Linked DNA regions of Homo sapiens: region 2 is linked to region 1. The links come from fine-mapping of genetic effects on gene expression. A gene starts in region 1. The other region holds a variant in brackets. All regions are shown on one strand. Distances are from middle to middle.

Evidence for each region. PIP is the estimated chance that this variant, and not a neighbour inherited with it, causes the effect.
Region 2: its variant is fine-mapped to the expression of KNDC1 in whole blood (TOPMed, PIP 0.98).

What each region holds. Positions count from the first base shown.
Region 1 is chr10:133,158,368-133,161,275 of GRCh38, reverse strand. KNDC1 (kinase non-catalytic C-lobe domain containing 1) reads right to left here and starts at 1,057. Exons shown (of 30, transcript NM_152643.8): 1 at 707-1,057. The coding sequence starts at 808. RefSeq lists enhancers at 1-96, 97-686.
Region 2 is chr10:133,191,953-133,194,860 of GRCh38, reverse strand. The region is part of intron 9 of KNDC1 (kinase non-catalytic C-lobe domain containing 1); the gene reads right to left. It overlaps LOC105378574 (a long non-coding RNA gene), which reads left to right. Exons shown (of 2, transcript XR_946511.3): 2 at 1-374. Among named protein-coding and RNA genes, the nearest start is that of KNDC1, 33 kb to the right of the region's middle. The variant C/T (reference allele first, on the strand shown) is at 1,515.

The DNA of each region.
Region 1 (2,908 bases):
CTGCTGTATCCCCTGGGGGCCACCTCTCATGCTTCCGGGCCTGGCTTGTCCACTCCATCCCAGCCAAGCCAGAGCTGAGCTACAGGGTCAGACCCAGCCAAGGTGGCGTCTGGGCAGCCGGTGCTGTAGGGTGGGCGGTCCATGAGCAGAAGCGCCAGGGTATGCAGATGGCAGGCAGAGCCCCTCTGCACCTTGCGGGGTAGGGGGGTCTTGGGTGAAGGCCCGGAAAACCAGAGAGCAGGAAGCAGCTCTCAGTCTCGGGGGGCAGTCATCCAGCGCTCCCCCCACCCCCCGCTCCTGAACCTCAGCTCCGGGGACCTCATCCCCCAGCTCCTGAGCGGCGCCTGATTGGACTCTGCTGCTCTGCACCCCGCTGGCCTCCTGGGGCCCGGCAGGGAGTAAGCAGACCCCCCTCCGTCCTCCTTGCTGCCCCCACACTGTCCCGCCAGGGTTTCCACCAGGAGCTACCGCGCACCAACTTCTGCAGGGGCTGCCCACCCGCCGCCGTCCCGTGCGCATTCGGGGGTGCTGTCCCCTCCGGGTGAAAATCCTAACGCGGGGGCTGAGAACGGCGGTGGGAACCCCTCGGCCATGGAGGGCGCCTGGGGAGGCGGGAGCTCACAGCCCCTCCCGGGTCCTCCCCCCGGGCGCTCTCCGCGGACCCCTCGGCGGCGGAAGGGGCCCCCCAGTGGGGCCGGGGGCTCACCTCGTCCTCGGGGAGGGTGGGCAGCGGCTCGAAGTCGTAGAAGTCCAGGTCTTTGCCGTCCTCCTCGTAAAGATCCGCCGCGGCCGGGTCCATGGCCTGCATCCTGCGGCCGCGCCGCGCACCGCCCCCGGGGCCTCCGGCTGGGCTGGGCTGGGCTCGGCTACGCGCGCCCTGGCTCCATGGAGACGCGCCCGGCCCTCGCCCGCCCCCGCCCGCCCGCCGCTGCCGCAGTGTCTCCAGGGGACGCGGTCAGGGATACGGGGCGGGCCCGGGGGGCGCGGGGGGCGCGGGGTGCGCGGGGGCTGCGCGGCGCTGTCCGGACCCGGCGCCTAGGGAACGTCGCTCCTTCCTGGGGGAGGCACCGGGGGCGGAGCCAGGCGTGTGGCCTCCGCGGGGAGCCACGGGGTCTGCGCCCCACCTGGGCCCCAAGGGTCGAGGGGCGGAGCCGGCGCCCAGGAAAGCTCGGACGGGCAGACCCCCTCGCCGGCTCCCGCCGCCCCCGTCCCACCCCCGCTGCTGCCGGGCGGGGCTGCCGCAGTCCCGGGGTGGCCTCTGCAGCGGCGTTGGGCAGGGCCGGGCGGGGCCCGGGGTGGGGGGCGGGGCCCGGGGTGGGGGGCGGGGCGGTCGCTGGGCCGGGGTCTCTCCTGAGCGAGGGTCTTTCGGAGGCCCGGGGATGTTGGGGGTGGGGCAATAACGCTGCCTCATCCCCACCTGGAGGCATCGGAGAGACCCACTGGGCACCCGACCCTCCCCGGTCCTGGGGGACCCTGGGGGGTCCTGGGGCTCTTGACCTCTTCCTGCCCCAAAGGCCCCCCGGGGCTTTCTTCAGCGCCAGGGTGACCCCGGCCCACGGTAGTGCCGCGGTCAGAAGAGCCAGGATAGCCCCAAGCTCGGCCAAGAGGCAGGGAGGGTGGAGGAGAATCTCACCTTCCCCGGCCACCCCCAGAACTCCCACAGGAGAGAGGGCGGCTTCAGGGCCCGGCTGTCAGCTCCCCGTCCGTGTGGCTGGCCAGGCACACAGTAGGTACTTAATCCATGCTCCTGGCTTGAAGGAGCAGCAGGGCTTTTGACCGCAGAGTGGGAGGGTGCAGTGTGTTCAGGGACGTGAATTCCCAGCACTCTGTCCCCTGGTCGGTCACCCGGGCTGTCACTCTGGCCTGGCAGGGAGTTCAGGGGCTCAGCTCCCCGGGAGCCAGGTGGGCACTGAAGCCGGAGGCTGGGAGTGGGGCAGGTGCTGGGCAGACTCCCTGCGTCCAGCCAGGCAGCCCCACCTTATTGAAAATGCCCACCCTGGGGCCCACCCTGGTCCACCGAGTCAGCAGTCAGGTGCAGCCTCCCCCATCCTTGGGTGTTTGGAAGCTTGGGCAGCAAGCCAAGGTGGAGTGGGCTGGAGCTGGAGAGGAGGAGTCTCACAGAGGGTGGCCTCAGCCAGCTGTCCCTGAGCTCTCTCTCTGTGGGCCCCACAGGGCCTGCAGCGCCCCAGTCCCTGTCTTGGAAGGAGGCGGAAGTGGCAGGCAGACTCTGCTCCAGGAGCCTGATCCCGCTGCACCCTGGTGCTCAGACCTGGACATTGGAGCTGAGCCCCTGGGCTCCTGGGCCCTCTGCTGCAGGGCTGGGGCCGCCTCCTTTGTCAGGTCTGGATGTGCCCCTGACGCCTCTCAGCTGCCACCCAGACTTGTGCCTCCGGGGGAACGCCGGGCTGACGTGACCCCAAAGGGAAGGCACCAGGGACCCCACAAGCACAGGACTTTGTCACCGAGTGCCCAGGTCACCTCACGGGCTTGGGGTGAGGATATAGACACTGAATAGGGGGCAAAGGTAACCCCATAATTTGGGGGGCAGCCATAGGGCAAGCACTCCTGGAAAGACGTGCATGCGGTTGGTAAAATGCAGAACTCACAGGCTCCTGGAGTCGGCCGTGTCAGCTTCGGCTGTTGCGGCCTAAAACCCCTCAGCAGGCATTTCCCACACCTGGGTCACTCAGCGCTGCTGCTGCTCAGGGCTGGGCACGTGGGGAGGGGCCTCGGGCAGGGGCCGCAGGCTCTTTCTTTTACGCACCTGCTGCTTTCCTTTAAAGATTTGTGGGCTTTGGTCTCTGTTGTTCTGGGGAGTGGTGGGAACTTCCAGACGTTTTGCGAGTTGTCCCGGGCGCCCGCACACTCGCCTGCAGTGATAAAGCTTTGACCCAAGTGGAGGGTGCGA
Region 2 (2,908 bases), 34 kb before region 1:
GGCCACAGACATGACACACTTTTAAGTTTAATCACATCATCCACGTGTTCTCCATCACTTCAGTAAGTCCAGAGAGTCAACAGAACAAGACATTTGTAGCGTTTGCTGCTTTCCCTGGTGTAAGTACTCCCACGTGGCTGACTTCTGGCTACCAATGCAGTGCCCTTGAGTGTGGAGCTGGGAAGAGGCAGCTCCCCTTTACAGAGTCTCCCCCATCCAGGCACAGCAGACGCAGACAGCCCCACGAGCATAGAACAGCCAACTAGAGTCAGATAAGTAGGAAATCACCCATTTTGAGCACTTGTTACACTTTTAAAAAATTAACCTTTTATTTTGTGATAATTGTACATAGTTTTAATAAATAATAGAGCTCATGTACTTTGTACCCAGTTTCCACAACAGTAGCAGCTTGCAAAATACTGATACTGATATAGTCCAGTATCTCAGCCAGCACATCGCCATTGGCACAAAAATCCTGGTTCGCCATATGTTGCATTTTCATTTTCACTCAGTTCTATATGTTTTTAAAATTTCCTTGAAATTTTCTCTTTGACACATAGAGTATTTAGAATGTGTTGTTTCGTTTCCAAGTGTTTGGAAAATTTCCCTTTTATTTTTGTTACTGTGGTCAGAGAACACATTTGTATGACTTAAATTCTTTTAAATTTGTTGAGGTTTGCGTTATGGCTCAGGATTTGGTCTAGCTTGGTGTATAGTCAGTGGGGCAACTGAGAAGAATGTGGATTCTGCTGTTGTTGGGTGGAGTGTCCTTTAAATGTTGATCCAGCCGTGTTGATTGACAGTGTTGTTGAGTTCCTTCATATTTTTACTGGTTTACAGTCTGATTGTTCTATCAAGTGTTCAGAGAGGGGAAACTGGCATCTCCAACTATAATTGTGGATTCATCTGTGTCTCTATTAATTCTATCAGTTTTGCTTCACATATTCTGCAGCTCTGTTATTTGGTGCATATATGTTTAGGATTGCTATGTCTTCTGGGCGGACTGACCCTTTATTGTTATAGAATGTCCCTCTTTATCTCTGGTAATTTTCTTTGCTCTGAAGTACACTTAACCTGATATTAATGCAGTCACTTCTGCTTTCTTTTTATCATTTTCATAATGTATCTTTTTCAACTCTTTTAACTTTCAACCTACTTATATTGTTTTATTTGAAGTGAGTTTCTGGTAGACAGTACATGGTTAGGTCATGTTTCTAAACATTACTCTGTCAATCTTCTTCCTTTCTTCTTCTCTTCCTCCTTCCTTCTCCTTTTTCCTTCTTCTTGTTCTTCTTCCTTCCTTCTTTCTTCCTTCTTCCTCCTTTATTTATTTAAGAGACAGGGTCTCGCTCTTGTCGCCCTGGCTGGAGTGCAATGGCTGTATCTGGGCTCACTGCAGCCTCCACCTCCCAGATTCCAGTGATTCTTCTGCCTCAGCCTCCCAAGTAGCTGGGATTACAGGCACCCACCACCATGCCTGGCAAATTTTTGTATTTTTAGTAGATACAGGGTTT[C/T]GTCATCTTGGCCAGGCTGGTCTCAAACTCCTGACCTCAGGTGATCCACCTGCCTCAGCCTCCCAAAGTGTTGGGATTACAGGCCTGAGCCACTGCACCTAGCCTGTTTCCTTAATTTCTGAAGGATATTTTTGCTGGAAATAGGTTTCTGGGTTGAAAGTTCTTTCAGAACTTAAAAAAATGCTATGCACTTCCTCTACAGTTACTGATGAGAAATCTGATCATCTGAACTGTTTTCCCCCCCCATATGTGTATATATGTAAGCTGCTGTTTCTCTCTCTTTTTGTTTTTTATTTTTATTTTTATTTTTTCGGAGAGGGGAGGGTTAGTATTCAGAGGTTTGACTATGATGTGTCCTGGTGTGGATTTCTTTGCATTGATCATGTTTGGGGTTTTCTCACCTTCTGAAATCTGTAGGCTTATGTGTCTTGCCAAAATTTGGAAGTTTTCAGCCATTATTTCTTTGAGTACTTTTTATGCACCACCCTCCTTCTCTTCTCTTTCCAGGATTTTGATGACATGGATATTAGATCTTTTATTATAGTCCCACAAGCTTCTCAGGCTCTGTTCAGTTCTTTTGGTCTATTTTCTCTTTGTTGTCCAAACTGTGTAATTTCTATTGTCTCCATTTCACCAATTCTTTCCTCTGCCCTCTCTATTCTGCTATTAAGCCCATTCATTGAGTTTTTTTAAAAAATCAGCTCTAAAATTTCCATTAGCTTTTTCTTTTTCTTTTCTATTCCTTGGTTGAAACTTTGTATTTCTTTGCTGAAACTTTTTCATTTGTTTCAAGCGTGTTTGCAATTGCCCAATGACGCATTTTTATGATGGTTGCTTTAAAAATTTTAAAGTCACTTTTAAAATTTCTGTCATCTCCAGGTTGGTATCATTGGTTGCCTGTTTTCATTCAGTTTGACATCTTCCTGATTCTTGGTATCATGAGTCCTTCCCCATTGCTTGATTTTGTCAGCTCTGTCAAAGATCAGATGATTGTAGGCGTGCAGCCTTATTTCTGGGCTCTCTATTCTCTTCCATTGGTCTATGTGTTTTTGTACCAGTGCCATGCTGTTTGGGTTACTGTGGCCTTGTAGTATAGTTTGAAGTTGGGTAACGTGATGCCTCTGGCTTTGTTCTTTTCACTTAAAATTGCTTTGGCTATTTCAGCTCTTTTTTGGTTCCATATGAATTTTAGAATAGTTTCCTCTAATTCTGTGAAAAATGACATTGGTAGTTTGATAACAATAGCATTGACTCTGCGGATTGCTTTGGGCAGTGTAGCTGTTTTACCAACACTGATCCTGCCCATCTGTGAGCATGGGATGTGTTTCCACTTGCTGGTGTGGTCTCCAATTCCTTTCAGCCATGATTTCCAGTTGTCCTTGCAGGACACGCTG